Regions from separate parts of the Homo sapiens genome. Here region 1 is linked to region 2. The links come from fine-mapping of genetic effects on gene expression. A gene starts in region 2. The other region holds a variant in brackets. All regions are shown on one strand. Distances are from middle to middle. Region 1 holds the start of MIR6810 (microRNA 6810). Region 2 holds the start of SLC11A1 (solute carrier family 11 member 1).

Region 1 (8,323 bases), 39 kb after region 2:
TATAAATATAATGAAAACAAAACGATGTTGTTAAAGCTTAACTACAGACATTTCCCAACTAAAGTATGAACCTGGATCCCGGGTCTTTCTTTCCAAAGACATTAAAGACAGACTAGTGCCAAGACCGTGTCCTTGAAGTCCAATTGATTGCTGTGCTGTGGCCATGTACAGCCACCCTACTTTGGCCAGTGGTACACTTGTGTATCTCAAGCTTTGGGAAACATTGAGATAAGCAAATCGTAAACCCTGAACAAATGCCCATGGGCCTTGGGAAGAACATATTTTAGGCATCATTTCTCTCTCTCTTTTTAAAAAAATTTTTTTTTTTTTTGAGACAGAGTCTCATTCTGTCGCCCAGGCTGGAGTGCAGTGGTGCGATCTCGGCTCACTGCAACCTCCGCCTCCTGGGTTCACGTGATTCTCCTGCCTCAGCCTCCTGAGTAGCTGGGATTATAGGCTCCTGCCACTATGTCTGGCTAATTTTTTGTATTTGTAGTACAGATGAGGTTTCACTATGTTGGCCAGACTGGTCTCGAACTCCTGACCTTGTGATCCACCCGCCTCAGCCTCCTAAAGAGCTGGGATTATAGGTGTGAGCCACTGCGCCCAGCCTTTGGGCATCATTTCTGATCAAAACTCTTGAAGTGCCTAACTGCAAGTTAGCAGGCCTGGAACTGAGATGGGAAAACTGTGAGAAAGTTCTCTGCTGTTTTCACTCATGTAGCAACAAAGACAAGCTGTTGGGTGATCAAGTCTTGATTAAATCATTCATTCATTCAACATTTATTGAGCGCCTACTGTGTGCTAGGCACCGTGCTAGGCGCAGAAATACAGAGATGCATAAGATACAGTCCATGCCCTTAAGGATTCACAGTCTAGAAGGGGAGACAAACATGTAAACAAGTAAAATACAGTGTGATAAGTGCCACAAGAGAAGCATTGACAAAGTGCAGAGGTAGCCTGGAGGGGAGGGGCACAGGGGTTGCCTTCCTGGAGGAGGGGGCCTTTGAGGGGATCGTGAGAGATGAACTTGCCAGGCAGACAAGGCAGGAGGAGCAGGGGAAGGCATTCCAGTCGGAAGAAACAGCATGAGCGAAGGCACAGAGGCATGAAACTGCATGTCTTGCTTGGTGAGTGGGGAACTCTAACTAGTCTGGTGGTATTGCTAAAGTGTACTAGAGGCTGTGGCTAGAGAAGGGGGCAGAGGCCAGATCATGAGGGGAAACTGAGGGCAGGGGCATCTTGGAGGGTCACCAGAGGTGAGCAGAGCCCGAGGGCAGGCTTTGACACAGGAAAAGAGGGCTCCTGGCTGACTCAAGGTACACCTGCCTGAGGACCACAGGGTTCCTCGCTGTGGCTCCAAAGGGATCTCGACCCAAGAGTAGAGGAGCAGCAGAGCTGGAGGTGAAGCAGAGGGGTCGGGCCAGGTCTGGGACCCAGAGCTGCCATGCACTCCCGCGCTCTCACAGACTTCTGATTTCCAACCTGCACGTCAGAGCCCCCTCCTGCCAGCCGGATGGGGGCCTGGATCCAGTGGGAAATCACATGGGAATATGGCTGGCAAACTGCAAAGGGCCAGATGAGTGTCAGGTTACAGAATAAATCTTTACTAACTCAAAGAAGAAAAGGGCTGCGGATAAAACAGGAAAGGTTAGATGGAGGAAGGCGGGCAGACGGGCCTAAGAACAAGGGCCAAAATGAGAATACAGCATCGGCCAAAGAGGACCGTGGCTGTCTCTCCCCTGGCAAGGAGGGGCCCTTTTGGCCCAGGGCAGAGGCAGAGGCCAGTGGGTACAACCAGGCCAGATGTGCAAGGAGAGCATGTGACCTGCAAGACTGTGGGGCTCCACACTCCAGACTCCAGTGTCTCCTTAGCCCAATGAGGAGGTTTCCTTGGCAATCAGGACCCTCCTTCTTCCAGGCTGTAGGGAGGCCACTGAGGCAGAGAGTGGCCAGCCAGCATTCCAGCCCTTCAGTGTTCTTAGGAATGGCTCTGTCTGAAAAATGGCTTTGCAGGGATGGGTGGGGCAGGGAGGCTGTGGGAAGAGGGCAGAGTCTCAGGACACCAGAGTCCAGCTGCCCATCTGAGTGGTGCTTTTGTAAGGCATCACACTTGAGGCCACTGTGAGGGGCTGAGCTTCTTTCCCAACCATGGATGGGGGAAGGGCAAGATGGACCCTGGGTTCCAGGGCTACAGTGAGATGAGGCCTCCTGACGGAGAAGCTAACAGCAGCCCCCATGTCCTTGCTGCCGTCCCAGGAGTAGGGAAGGAGGAGGGGACCCTCCCAGTTGGTAGGGTCTGGAGATGTCCCGAGACCCCTCCTTTCCTCTTGCCGTTGATGAGGCAGCCTCGCGCTGCGGGGTTCCCAGCCTCCAACAGGCCCCCTTCTTTTGGCCTCACAGTCTCATCGCCTGATCCCTCCCCTCCCCTGAGCAGTGTGGGGGGATGATGCCCGCTTGGGTGCCGATGGAGGTGGTGGTGTTAGCGATGAGAAGGATGATGAGGTGTTGGTGGTGGCGGCCTCCCCATGCGGGGAGTGGGCTGGGCTGGGGGCGCTGGGGGCATCACTTGCTCTTGTGCATATCCTTCAGCCGGCGGAGCTCTTCCAGGAGCTGGGCCCGGGAGTAGTCATCATCCCCAGTGGGGCCCGGCCCCGGCCCCAGAGCCTCCTGTAGCGCCAGGCAGTGGGTTCTCAGGAACGGGTTGTAGGAGCGCTCCTCTCCCAGGGTAGATGGGCACTGTGGGTGAGAGGAACCAGGTTTGGTGGAGAGAAGCTGGGAAATGGACCCAAGACAGAGAAGCCTGACCCGACCCCTGCCCCATCCTGGAGTTCAGGAGTTCTGACTTGAGGGCCCATGGGCCAAAGAGGTCAGAGTTTTGGGGAGGTGCTCGCAGGCCTGGGGTCAGCATGGATGGGTTCCCGTTGGGGCTGAGTGCCTGCCCACACAGCTCCTCCTGGACCCCGAGTCCCTCACCGTGCCCTTGCGCTCCAGCCGCTGCCGCTGCACCCACTGCATCTTCCTCTCCCGGGCCAGGTTCTCGGGCTCCACCACACCTGCAAAGCCCAGGTTCTCCTCTGCATACTCATGACCTACCGACAGCCATGAGGGTGAGACACAGAGCAGAGAGAGATTGGTGGTACAGTCAGAACAGTCTTCCCTGCCCCAGGTCCAGGCTGATGGGCACCTGACAACTAGGGATGAGGTCAGCACTTCCAGGAAAACCCCAACTGCCAGGAGCTGCTTCTCTAACTGTGGGCACAAGTCAGCCATGGGTGAAAAGGTGGCAATAGTTCCAGGGGAAAAAACCACTAGACCTGGAGCTGGCAGGCCTGCATCTAGCCCTGACTCCACCAAGCCTAGCATGTGACCTCGGTCTAGTCATGGCCCCTCTCTGAGGCACAATTTTCTCATTTGGCAAGTGGAGAGAACAATGATGCCACCAGACACAGATGTACCTGCTGTGTTCCTGGTGCCTGGAACAGAGCCTGGTATGTGTTAGGTGCACATAAAGTACTTGATGAATGAATGAATGAATGAATATATGTTCTGAGGATTAACAGATATCTGTGAATGTTTTTATGCACCACAAGGCAATGGTTACATGCAGAGTGGATTTACTGACTTCTCCCCAGATAAGCAAAGGCTATTTTCTGTTCTGGGCTAAGGCTATGAACAATTAGACATCTCTCTGGAATGCCCTGGGGCCTGCAAGGCTCCCAAGAGGCTGAAGGCTGACTGGCAGGGGAAGGTAGTGTGAGAAGCAGAGGTGGTACGGAGCCAGCACTCCAGGAAGAAGGGAGGCCAGAACTCTGTCCCTACCCCTAGAGGTGGAGCTGTGTCGCTTCTGGGCCAGGAACTGGGCTGGCCTGCTTTCTAGGGGAGTGAGGGGGTGGGAAGGCCCTTGTCCCAGGCTGAGCGTGGGGCTGGAGGATGGGGAGTAGTAAGGGGGTGTCTCACCAGGCCACAGAAGGGTGTCATCCCCTAGCCCCAGCACAGTGTCCAGTGAGCTCAGCATGGTCTCTGCATTGCCCTCAAAGGTCCGCCCTGGGTGGGGGTTGGAGGGTATGTCACAAGGTGCCAGGATAACACAATATGGCATAAGGCACACCCAGACAGGTGGGAACCAGCTTGTAATGCTCTGGCTGGCCGTCAGCCCTGACTGTGCACTTTCCAGACCCACCCCAGGCATCTATTCCCTCCTCACTGGGAACTGGGCCCAACTGGTCACCCCCTGACCAAGCCCATCCGAGGCCTCCGTTGCACACAGTGACACCTGAAGGGAGGGGCTGTGGAATCTTCGGGCTGCAGGCCCCAGGCTTGGTAGACGCAGGGCTGCTCTTTCCCACGGAACACTTCTTCGCCTAGGCTGCCCTTTGGGATTTCATG[C/T]AGCCTGGGACTTGTGATCCTCACCCACCCACTCACCTAGCTGTTCTTAACTTTTCATAACCTAGTCCTGCCAGTCACTGTATCAGAGAACCAGTCTCCACCCAGGGGAAACTAATTCCCTGCAGGGCTTTACTCAGCTACAGACATTCTCCCATTCTGTCCCGCAGCTGGCAGAAGTCTTTTTTATTTTTGAGACAGAGTCTCATTGTTGCCCAGGCTGCAGTGCAGTGGCACAATCATAGCTCACTGCAACCTTGAATTCCTGGGCTCACCACCACACTGGCTAATTTTTGTATTTTTTGTAGAGACGGGGTTTCACCATGTTGCCCAAGCTGGTCTTGAACTCCTGGGCTCAAGCAATCCACTTGCTTTGGCCTCCCAGAGTTCTGGGATTACAGGCCTGAGTCACTGCTCCTGGCCTATATTATTTATATTATTTAAATTTTTTTTTCTGTTTTGTGACAGAGTCTCACTCTGTCTTCCAGGTTGGAGTGCAGTGGCGCGATCTCAGCTCGCTGCAACCTCTACCTCTCGGGTTCAAGCAGTTCTCCTGTCTCAGCCTCCCTAGTAGCTGGGATTACAGGCATGCACCACCATGCCCGGCTAATTTCTGTATTTTTAGTAGAGACGGGGTTTCACCATGTTGACCAGGCTGGTCTTGAACTCCTGACCTCAGGTGATCCTCCCACCTCAGCCTCCCAAAGTGCTGGGATTACAGGCATGAGCCACCACGCCTGGCCTATTTTAAAATTTTTTTGTAGAGACAGTCTTGCTATTTTGCCCAGTCTGGTCTCCAACTCCTAGCCTCAAGTGATCCTCCTGCCTCAGCCTCCCAAGGTGCCCCAAGGGAAGTCTCAAGGATTAAAACCAATCTGAGTAACACAGATGGAAGTAACTGCCACGGCAACATCTGTGCTAAAACTAAGGCTTCAGTGCTCTCCATGGGACTGTGGCTGCCCTGGCTTCTGTCTCTCCCTCCTCTCCCAGCTCCTCTCTCTTTCGGGGAAACTCACCACAGCCAGAGAGGAAGAGCAGGTCCCCTGAGAAGAGGCAGGAGGGACCCTTGTAGGGCTCCCCATCCAGTAGGTAGACCAGATGGCCTTGTGTGTGGCCAGGTGTAGCCAGGGCCCGGATCTGAAGCCGTCCCACGCTGACCACATCTTGATGACACAGGGGACTGGGGAACAAGGGAGCAGGGGACAGAAGGTATTGGATCTGTGCCATGCTGATCCCTGTCCCCATCCCAGGCCCAAGGGGCTGGGTGATTCACAAGAGAGTGGGCTTCCATACAAAAGAAGTCACCCCAGTGCCTCGGGTCTCAGGTCCGAACCCTCCCCCTTTCCTCTTTTGGGGACTATGGCTGGATCAGTTGGGGGATGGGCAGTGCCAGTCTTCAGATAGGCTGGGATTGGGCCAGGAAGGGCACTGGCAAAGATCCACCTGCTGATACCCCTGAAACACTTCACTGAAGGCTGGGGGTGGGGGAAAGGGCCCATGGAAGGGCCATCCCTTGCCTAGGTCAGGGACTTACTGGGTGAGGTAGGGGATGCCGTCCTGAGGGCTCCCGTACACCCGACAGTCCCGGTGCCGCCGGCTGAGGTCACGGTTCCCTCCACTGTGGTCCCTGCAGGACAGCAGAGACAGGCAGGGGGCTTCGAGGGGCAACTGTACCTAAGCCCCCTTCTTTACCACAGCATCTCCAGGCCTTTAAGTGCTGGGGCTGTGGCTTCTGGACTAAGCCAAGTTGTCCACACCTCTAGGCCTTTGTTCAAGCTGTTCCCTTGCCCAGAACATCGCCCCCAACAACTCAAGCTGGCCAATGCCAGCCGAGCTTCCTGAACCCTCAGCTCAGGTCATCATCTTTCAATTCTCCAAGTGGATCTGATCACACCGTGCCTGGGCCTCCCATCCCTGTTCCCTGTGCCAACTGTTACCTAAATATCACATACTTCTTTTTTGAAGACAAGGTCTCACTATGTTGCCCAGGTTGGGCTTGAACTCCCAACCCTCTTGCCTCCGCTGTTATATACTTTGATACAGGGCTACCTCCCCTATTGGTCTTAGAATTTCCTTGATGGAAGAGTCATAACTTTTGTCCATGCCCAGTGTGCAGTAGGTATCTAATACATGCCCATGAAATGAAAGAGAAATGACTGCCCTGCCCTCTGGGGCTTCAGAAGCTTGATCAATGGAGTGGTGGGAGACTGTCCCCTCTCCTCCCTCCCTGCTGGTGTCCAGGTGACTTCACGAGGAAGGCGGGTGCCGGCCCGTACTGACTTCTTGATCTCTGGCCCCGGCCGTCCTCAATGGGCCCAGTCCTGGCAAGCCCAGCTGGGACAAGGGTGGGCCAGGGAAGACGGGAGCCCCTTACCAGTGCTTGTGAGTACACAGAATGGCGACCAAGGTGACCCCTTCCTTTTCAATGGAAGCCTGCGAGAGAGAGGAGGTTTGGAGACTGGGGAGCAGGATGCAAGAGGCACTTGAAGCAGCAAGAGCCAGGAGTGTGGGCGCTGGTGGAGAGGAGAGGAGAGCATGGAGAGATGAAGCAGAGGAAAGGGATGGAGCTGGAGGGGAGAGATCCAGGAATGTGAAGCACGGGGCACATGGAGGCAGAGGGACACTTGTACATAGAGAGAGGCAGACACAGAGAGATAAGGAATGGGAGGGAAAGACAGAGAGACCCAGATACTGACAGACAGAGGTGACAGAAAGAAAGGGGGTCTGAAGGGGGCCAATGGGAGTGAAAGCCAGCCTGGAAACTCACTAGACCCAGAGTCCTGGGCCAACACCCCCAGCCCTCTGGCTCTGCATCCCCCACTCCTGCTCTCCCCTTCTGCCCAGCCATGCCCTGTACCCCCCTTCCCCAGGCTATGTGTGCGCATGTGCACGTGTGAACATGGAGCATATGGGACACATCCCACGGGCAGACGGACAAGGGTCAGCCCTCTCTAGCAAGGCGAAACTGCCAGTCCCCAAGGTGACTCCAGGCACCCCCTGCTCCCTGCCCTCCCCTCACCTGCACAGCCCGAGGGTCTGAAGGGTCCACAGCCACAGCCAGCTGGGCCTGGGTGTCGATGATGAGGTAGCTGTAGTTGTCCGAGAGGACAGGGATGGGAAGCACCTTCACTCCTGGGGACAGAGATGGGCTGTGGGCGGGGTAACAGGCAGGGAGCCCAGGGGCTGGGGTATGTGAAGGGGAGCAGGCGGGGAGGGTGGGGGCACAGAATGGGGGATGCTGGCCGGGGCAGTCAGAGCTCACCATTGAAGAGGCGGGGCTGGGTTTTCGAGTGGCCTTTAGGGTAGCGATTCCGAGCCCTGCGCAGCTGCTGTCGGTAGAAGAGGTACCCGAGCCAGGTGCGGGTGTACAGGCTGTACCTAGAGGGCGAGTGGGTGGCCTATGATTAGCCTTTTCTCCCTAGCTCCCCTAGACTCCTTCGTGATGCCTGCAGGCCCCACATCTCCATTCCTTTGGTGACCCTGTGAGCCAATGCAATTCCACTCTCACTTATTATGTGCCTACTGTTTGCCCTGCTTAGCACTCAGGACAAGATGGAGAATGAGACGGACACACCTAGAACTCAAAATCTATCAGGGAGACATGAACTGAGGAACTCACAGAAGAAAATTGGAGAGGCCAGGCGCAGTGGCTCACACCTGTAATCCCAGAACTTTGGGAGGCCGAGGTGGGCGGATCACCTGAGGTCAGGAGTTCGAGACCAGCCTGACTAACATGGCGAAACCCTGTCTCTACTAAAAATACAAAACTTAGTCGGGTGTGGTGGCACACGCTTGTAGTCCCAGCTACTCAGGAGGCTGAGGCAGGAGAATTGGGCATCGCACCACTGCACTGCAGCCCAGGCCAAAGAGTGAGACTCTGTCTAAAAAAAAAGAGAGACTTGGAGAGTGAGGGGTTTAATCTAGCCCAGGGTCTAGC
Region 2 (8,323 bases):
CCGTCCAGCTGAGAGCAGATTGAATGCAATGGCCGTGCCGATGACTTCCTGCATGTCGGAGCCCACAATGGCTAGCTCGATGGTCAGCCAGAGGACGGTGCGGGGCACCTATGGGGAGGAGATGATCCTTCATTAAGGGTGGGCCGGTTATTTGCCTGTCGTCTCAGACTACATTTGTCTGTCGTCTCAGACTACATTTACTAGACAGTCTGGCCAATGGGCTTCCTACCTTATGTAGGAAGAGCATACAGGAGATGGAAAGGCAGAGATAAACTTTTTTTTTTTTTTTCGAAATAGAGTTTTGCTCTTGTTGCCCAGGCTGGAGTGCAATGGCATGATCTCGGCTCACCACAATCTCCGCCTCCCGTGTTCAAGCGATTCTCCTGCCTCAGCCTCCCGAGTAGCTGGGATTACAGGCATGTGCCACCATGCCCGGCTAGTTTTGTATTTTTAGTAGAGACGGGGTTTCTCCATGTTGGTCAGGCTGGTCTCGAACTCCCGACCTCAGGTGATCCACCCGCCTTGGCCTCCCAAAGTGCTGGGATTACAGGCGTGAGCCACCGCCCCAGGCTGAGATAAACCATTTTCTCCCCCTGCTTCTTGTATTTCTGGCAGTGGCACCAGGCAACCCGGACTCTGGCAGCACTAGTGGCCATTTCATCAGCATCAATAATGCTTCCAGGAGCTCAGCAGCAAAGGATGGCTCTGGGGCTTGTGCCAGAGGTGTAGCAGCTTTCTGATCTTTTTGTAACACCCTCTTCCCTTGCCCCTCAAGCCCTCCCAAACCTTTCAATCCCTGCATTCAATACCTTTGAAATGTCCAGTGCTGTAATTTCTGTTTTCCAAACTGGACACTCACAACAACGAAGTCCCCAGGGTCCACCCCAACCAGTGACCATTCCTGAGCTGATGCCTCCCCATTTTTTGTCTTGGGCAAGTCTCTTTCCCAAATTTTAATTACCCCTTCTGTGAAATGACATGCCTCTCATGTCCCTCTAGGCTATGTGCTATCAGTTTGAGCCTCAGTCTTTCCATCTATCAAATGGAATTGGGGCCGGATGCAGTGGCTCATGCCTGTAATCCCAGCACTTTGGGAGACTGAGGTGGGTGGATCATCTGAGGTCAGGAGTTTGAGACCAGCCTGGCCAACATGGTGAAACCCCAGCTCTACTAAAAATACAAAAATTAGCCGATGATGGTGGTGGGCGCCTGTAATCCCAGCTACTTGAGAGGCTGAGTCAGGAGAATCACTTGTACCTGGGAGGTAGAGGTTGCAGTGAGCTGACATCGCACCATTGCACTCCTGACTGGGCGACGGAGCGAGACTCCGACTGAAAAACAAACAAACAACAACAAAAACAAACAGACTTGGGATGCCCCATGTGAGATGATGTATTTATTTGATCGTGGAAGCTGAAAATGGCTGTTTGGGGTTTGGGGCCAGTGGTTCTCCCTGTCCAGGCCCCCCAAGCTCACCTTAGGGTAGTAGAGATGGCAGACCTCGCCCAAGTCCTTGCCTGTCACCACGCCCAGACGTGCAGCCAGTCGCTGGCAGAGCAAGCCCAACACGGTGGCCCAGAGCAGCACCCAGAGAAGCTGTGAGGAGGCAGGGAGAGGCCTTCAGCCAGAGAGGCCAGCCTCAGAAAGCCCCTGAGCTCGTGGTACCCTCTAACCAAGCATACTCCTCGGGGAGGGGGTGGGAGAGATGGAGTCCCATCCTGGCTGGGCGCTGGTAGCTCACCCTGTAATCCCAGCACTTTAAAAGGCTAAGGTGGGAGGATTGCTTGAGTCCAGGAGTTCAAGAGCAGCCTGAGCAACATAGTGAGACCCCCATCTCTAAATAAATAAATAAATTACGCCAGGCAAGGTGGCTCACACCTGTTATCCCAGCACTTTGGGAGGCCGAGGCGGTGGATCACTTGAGGTCAGGAGTTCAAGACCAGCCTGGCCCACACAGTGAAACCCCATCTCTACTAAAAATACAAAAATTAGCCAGGCGTGGTGGCATGCACTACTCAGGAGGCTGAGGCAGGAGAATCACTTGAACCCGGGAGGCAGAGGTTGCAGTGAGCCGAGATTGTGCCACTGCACTCCAGCCTGGGTGACCGAGTGAGACTGAGTCTCAAAAAATAAAATTAAATAAATAAATAAATAAATATACATATATATATTTTAAAGAGAGGAGTCCAGTCCCCTACCCCCCACACAAATGCCCCACCTTCTGGCAGGGCTGCCCTGGGGACCCTTTTCGGGCCCATTTGAACTTAACACCAGCTCCCAGGCCACATTGGAGAAACATGGCCAGCAGGGGCCTTCAACACTTAGCCTGGTCACCTCCCTCTCGAAAGTGTCCCCACTCAGGTCCCGACTTAGTTACTTTGAATCCCGCCACGGCGCCAGCCTGAAGATCTGACTCGATGTTTCCTGGGTCCAGGAAAGCAATGCTCATGAGGAAGCCAGGCCCCGTGAAGGCCCATAGCTTCCGCAGGCTGAAGGTGCCCTGTTGGGGGGTGGGAGGAGTAGAGTGAGGGGGTCCTGGGTATAGGGATGGTGGCAGCTGGCCTTGGCCATCCCCTAGAGGAGCCCCAACAGGCTCATCAGCCCAGCCCTGCCCTCCATGGCCCATTCCTGGGTCTGCCACCCAAGGGATGGGGAGGGCATGGGTGGAGGAAGCAGCATGCTCTGATGAGTCACAGAGGATCTTTTTCTGGATCTGTTAAGCTCAGCAGCCGGCTTGCACCTGAACTGCCTGCCCCTCAAGCCCTGACTTGTCAGGTCCTCAGAGACCTCACAGGGGGCTGTCTAAGGGGGTGAGGGGGCCAAGCTTCCCTAGCCCAGCTCCTCCCTTGCCAGCTCCTTTTCAGACCACGGGGCCTCCTCTCTGTGGTCCGCTGAGGCTATGGTCCCCCCACCCTGTTCCAGAGCATGGCATATTGACTTAGAAATCTGCTGAAGATATTGGAGGCTGGGAGCGTTGGCTCGTGTCTGTAATCCCAGCACTTTGGAAGGCCGAGGTGGGTGGATCACTTGAGCTAAGGAGTTTGAGACCAGCCTGGCCAACATGGTGAAACCCTGTCTCTAGTAAAAATACAAAAATTAGCCTGGCATGGTGGTGCATGCCTGTAATCCCAGCTACTCGGGAGGCCGGGGCAGGAGAATCGCTTAAACTTGGGAAGCGGAGGTTGCAGTGAGCTGAGATCGCGCCACTGCACTCCAGCCTGGGCTACAGAGCGAGACTCCATCTCCAAAAAAAGAGAAGATACTGGAAATGCAGGTGACAGCATCCTAGATGCTAGATGCCAGCCTGCAGCCTCCTTCACTTCTCCCTATGCCCTTTCCTAAATGCTATAACATGTCCTCAAGGCTCCAATCCCAATTCCCCCTGGGCCTCTTTTCCTTCATAGGAAAGCTGAGATTCATTGAGAAAGTCATTTAATCGCTTTTAGACAAATACTGAAGCACCCCAGCTAAGCACTGGGGACGGAAGCAGGAAGGGGCAGTTGCCACTGTCCACCACTGCTGCTCAGACCTGGAAGGGACTTGCCACCCATGATCATAAGGAGACCCCATTCTCCAGCCCATGGGATCCTTCAGGATCCTGTCAATCTTGCAAGCCCCCAGGAAGTTTCCAGCATCCCACCGGTTTTGTGTCTGGGATGGGGATCTTCTCACTCAGGTAGGTCTCTCTGGGAGGTGCTTGCTGTGGCCCTGGGCTGGTCGGGCTGGTCGGGCTGGAGATGGAACCATAGCTGGACCCGCTTAGCCTTTGGGGACCCTTGTCACCTGTGGGGGCCCATGAAGCATGGTGAGTGTCCTGCCTCTTTCTGGTGGCCCAGAGTTAAAGCCGCCTGATCCTTTCCCTCCTCCTCCCGGAAAAGTGGAGAAACTAAGGTCCCTGGCCCCCATCTTGGGTCCATCACCTCCACCTCTCAAACAAACATTCCAGATGTGTGGGACATGGCAGCTTCAGAATTACTGTCCTCTCATGTGAGGACAGATGCCCAGAGGCAGATCTCCTGCCACAGAGAATGCAGAGAGACCCTAGGCTCTAAGAAGGGCAAGCTGAGGCCACATGTCTGCCCCTTGGCTGGACCCCTCACCTTCTCCGGCAGCCCAGAAAGCTCCAGGGGCTTTGATCCACGGACTTCAGACAAAGGAAAGGTAGACCGCTTAGGGGTGTGAAGGACTCCACCCAGTGAGATTGAGTCTGGTGTCCAGAACTGTGTTCTAGACTAGGACTCCCACGGGGGACCAGAGGCTTCCACAGGGGACCAAGGGCTTTCTTGCTTCCTCAAGTCTCCACCAGCCTAGTGATCTCCTCCACTCCACCCCCCAATCAGGCTCTGTCCCTAGGGGCCACTACTCACCTGTCATTGAAATGCCGACTTCAGGTACTCTGGGAGTGTGAGCGGTGCTCTGGGCAGCTCCTCAGCCTGCACCCCCTCTCTGGGCACTGGTGCAAGTAAGTGTGCCAGCCCACGCCCTGTTACCCATCCGCAGCCGAGTGCCCTGCCTCTTACATCAACATTCGGTTCACATCGGCCGATTCACACACACACACAACATGGGGCGTTGTGAAACATTTTCCAAAGGCAGAAGTGGCCAGCCCTGGCGGAAGGGTCTGGTTACCCATGGAGTGGACCTTTGTTCCCCTCCCAGCCTGCCCTGTGCCCCACAACACATCTGTTCCCCTTCCAGGCACCCCGTGTTCTGTGCCTCCCAAGTTAGCTCTGATTTCAGATGCTTCCTGCCCCTTGCGTATTCATGTCAATACCCCATGACCACACCCCCCTCTGCCACACACACACACACACACGTACACACACACGTACACACACACAGAGTCAGGTCTTTCTTATTCTCTTTGATCTGGAGTTCCAAGACCCCTCGTTGGCCTAATGCGAGTCTTCATGTCCTCAAAGGCTTCAGTTTCCCTTTGAGGGCCACAGAGGAAGGCACTGCAGAAGGGACATGCATTGAAGATTCAGACCCAGGACGTCCCCAGAAGATGGGGCACTGGGATCTGGTCCTGGTTCAACCACTGATTCACTTGAGATTGTCACCAGATCATGTCCCTTCTCAGAGTTGTTTATTCTATTCCACCCCCACCCTTTTTTTTTTTGGTTTTTCGTTTTTTGTTTTTTTTTTTAGAGACAAGGTCTCGCTCTGTCACCCAGGCTAGAGTGAGGTGTGAAGTGCAGTGGTGCCATCTTAGTTTACTGCAGCCTCAAACTCCTTTTTTTTTTTTTTTTGAGACAGAGTCTTACTCTGTTGCCCAGACTGGAGTGCAGTGGCATAATCTCAGCTCACTGCAACCTCTGTCCTCCATGTTTAAGCAATTCTCCTGCCTCAGCCTCCTGAGTAGCTGGGACTACAGGCATGCACCACCACACCCGGCTACTTTTTGTATGTATGTATGTATGTATGTATTTATTTACTTTGAGATGGCGTCTTGCTCTGTCACCCAGGCTGAAGTGCAATGGCGCGACCTTGGCTCACCGAAACCTCTGCCTCTTGGGTTCAAGTAATTCTTCTTCCTCAGCCTCCTGAGTAGCTGGGATTACAGGCACCTGCCAACCACACCTGGCTAATTTTTGTATTTTTAGTAGAGATGGGATTTCACCATGTTGGCCAGGCTGGTCTCAAACTCCTGACCTTGTGATCCGCCCGCCTCAGTCTCCCAAAGTGCTGGGATTACAGGTGTGAGCCACTGTGCCCAGCCAATTTTTGTATTTTTTTTAGTAGAGACGGGGTTTCACTATGTTGGCCAGGCTGGTCTCGAACTCCTGGTCTCAAGTGATCCACCCACCTCAACCTCCCAAAGTGCTGGGATTACAGGTGTGAGCCACCATGCCTGGCATATAGCCTTAAACTCTTGAGCTCAAGAGAGCCTCCCTTCTCAGCCTCTCGGGTAGCTGGGAATACAGACCTATGCCACCATGCTTGACTGTTTCTTCTATTAACTGAGGGGCTCACAGGAGTTTGAGACCAGCCTGGGCAACATAGTGAGATCTCATCTCTACAAAAAATTTAAAAATTAGCTGGGCATGACCGGGTGTGGTGGCTCATGCCTGTAATCCCAGCACTTTGGGAGGCTGAGGAGGGTGGATCACGAGGTCAGGAGATCGAGACCATCCTGGTTAACATGGTGAAACCCTGTCTCTACTAAAAATACAAAAAAAAACCCAATAAACAAACAAACAAACAAAAAACAATTAGCCGGGCGTGGTGGCGGGCTCCTGTAGTCCCAGCTACTCAGGAGGCTGAGGCAGGAGAATGGTGTGAACCCGGGAGGTGGAGCTTGCAGAGAGCCGAGATCGCGCCACTGCACTCCAGCCTGGGTGACAGAGCGAGACTCCGTCTCAAAAAAAAAAAATTTGCTGGGAGTGATGGCCCACACCTGTAGTCTCCATTACTTGGGGCAGGGCTGAGGTGGGAGGTTTGCTTGAGCCCAGGAGGTTGGGGCTGGCATGATCAGTGAGCCGTGATCATGCCCCTGCACTTCAGCTTTGGTGACAGAGTGAGACTGAGTGAAAAAAAAAAAAAAAGAAAGACTCAAACTGGCTAAGAGGTCAAAAATGTAGCTGCCCAAGGATGGCAAGCAGGTAAGATAAACTATGAGAGAGGTTGGGAGTAAGAAAAACTGCATGGGAAGGGAGAAAAAAATGAAAGAAAGAAAAAGAGGCCGGGTGTGGTGGCTCACGCTGTCATCCCAGAACTTTGGGAGGCCGAGGCGGGCAGATCACTTGAGGTCAGGAGTTCGAGACCAGCCTGGACAACATAGTGAAACCCCGTCTCTACTAAAAATACAAAAAATTAACTGGGCGTGGTGGCACATGCCTGTAATCTCAGCTACTCTGGAGGCTGAGGCAGGAGAATTGCTGGAACCCAGGAAGCAGAGGTTTCAGTGAGCTGAGATCAAGCCACTGCACTCCAGCCTGGGAGACAGAGCAAGACTCTGTCTCACCCCCCACCACAAAAAACAACAACAAAAACAAACAAACAAACAAAAAAAACAAGAAAATACTATGAAATCCAGCTTGACTCATGCCCACTGGAGTGAGTGGTGGCTCACTCCTGTTAATCCTAGCACTTTGGGAGGCTGAGGTGGGAGGATTGTTTGAGTCCAGGAGTTTGAGACCAGCGTGGGCAACATAGTGAAACCTTGTCTCTACAAAAAATAAAATTAGCCGGGCATGGTGGTACTCACCTGCAGTCCCACTCAAGTGATCCACCCACCTCAACCTCCCAAAGTGCTGGGATTACAGGCATGAACCACTGCACCTGGCTGATTTTTTATTTTACTTTTTCTTTCTAAATTTTTTAGAGACAGGTCTCACTATGTTGCCCAGGCTGGTCTTGAACTCCTGGCCTCTGGTGATCTTCCCATCTCAGCCTCTCAAATTGCCAGGATACAGAGTCACGAGGATTACAGGCCCCCAGGCTTGGCCAATGGCCAATGATTTAATCACTCATGCCTACATAATGGAACCTCCATGTAAATCCTAAATTGTGGGTTTCAGGGAGCTTCCGGGTTGGTGAACACGTTGAGATTCGGGGAGGGTGGCATGTCTGGAAAGGGCAGAAAAGCTCTGGGCACTCCCTCCATCCCTTGTCCATTAGGCTGTTCTTGGGTGTATCCTTAATAATAAACCAGAAAGAGCAAAGTGTTTCTTTGAGTTCTATGAGCTACAAGTTACCAAACCTGAGGGTCATAGGGACCTCCTGTTTGTAGCTAAATTGGAGAGGAGAGTGGGTAATCTGGGAACCCACTACCTGCAACTGGCACCTGAAGTGGGGGCAGTCTTGTGGGACTGAGCTCTTCACCTGTGGGGCCTGTGCTGGCTCCAGGTAGTTCATGTCAGAATTGAGTTAATTGTAGGAAACCCAGTTGTTGTCCACAGAGAATTGGATAATTTTGCTGGTGTGGAAAATTCACACATTTGGTGTTAGAACTGTTGAGAGTAGAGAAAGAGAGTTTTTCCTTCTAGAGAGGTTTACAGGCCCAGAATTGACCTGGGTTATAATTTATCCCCATGTTGAGTCAAAAACTATTTTTTTTTTGAGACAGAGTCTCACTCTGTCACCCAGTCTAGAGTGCAGTACCGTAGCCTTGAACTCCCATGCTCAGCCTCCCGAGTAGCTGGGACTACAGGTGCATGCCACCAAGACTGGCTAATTTTTGTATTTTTTGTAGAGGCAGGGTTTTGCCATGTTGCCTACGCTGGTCTCGAACTCCTGGGCTGAAGTGATCCGCCTGCCTCAGCCTCCCAAAGTGCTGGGATTACAGGCTTGAGCCACCGTGCCTGACCCCGTCAAAAAC

Evidence for each region.
Region 1: its variant is fine-mapped to the expression of SLC11A1 in whole blood (TOPMed, PIP above 0.99).

The regions. Positions count from the first base shown.
Region 1 is chr2:218,339,224-218,347,546 of GRCh38, reverse strand. PNKD (PNKD metallo-beta-lactamase domain containing) reads right to left here. Exons shown (of 10, transcript NM_015488.5): 3 at 7,649-7,764; 4 at 7,406-7,518; 5 at 6,761-6,819; 6 at 5,921-6,013; 7 at 5,403-5,566; 8 at 3,961-4,047; 9 at 2,977-3,092; 10 at 754-2,739. The coding sequence ends at 2,566. The region is part of intron 2 of CATIP-AS2 (CATIP antisense RNA 2); the gene reads left to right. MIR6810 (microRNA 6810) reads right to left here and starts at 5,636; the gene lies at 5,567-5,636. RefSeq lists an enhancer at 3,530-4,029. The variant C/T (reference allele first, on the strand shown) is at 4,390.
Region 2 is chr2:218,378,420-218,386,742 of GRCh38, reverse strand. It overlaps SLC11A1 (solute carrier family 11 member 1), which reads right to left and starts at 4,470. Exons shown (of 15, transcript NM_000578.4): 1 at 4,368-4,470; 2 at 3,641-3,783; 3 at 2,378-2,500; 4 at 1,477-1,596; 5 at 2-108. The coding sequence starts at 4,374.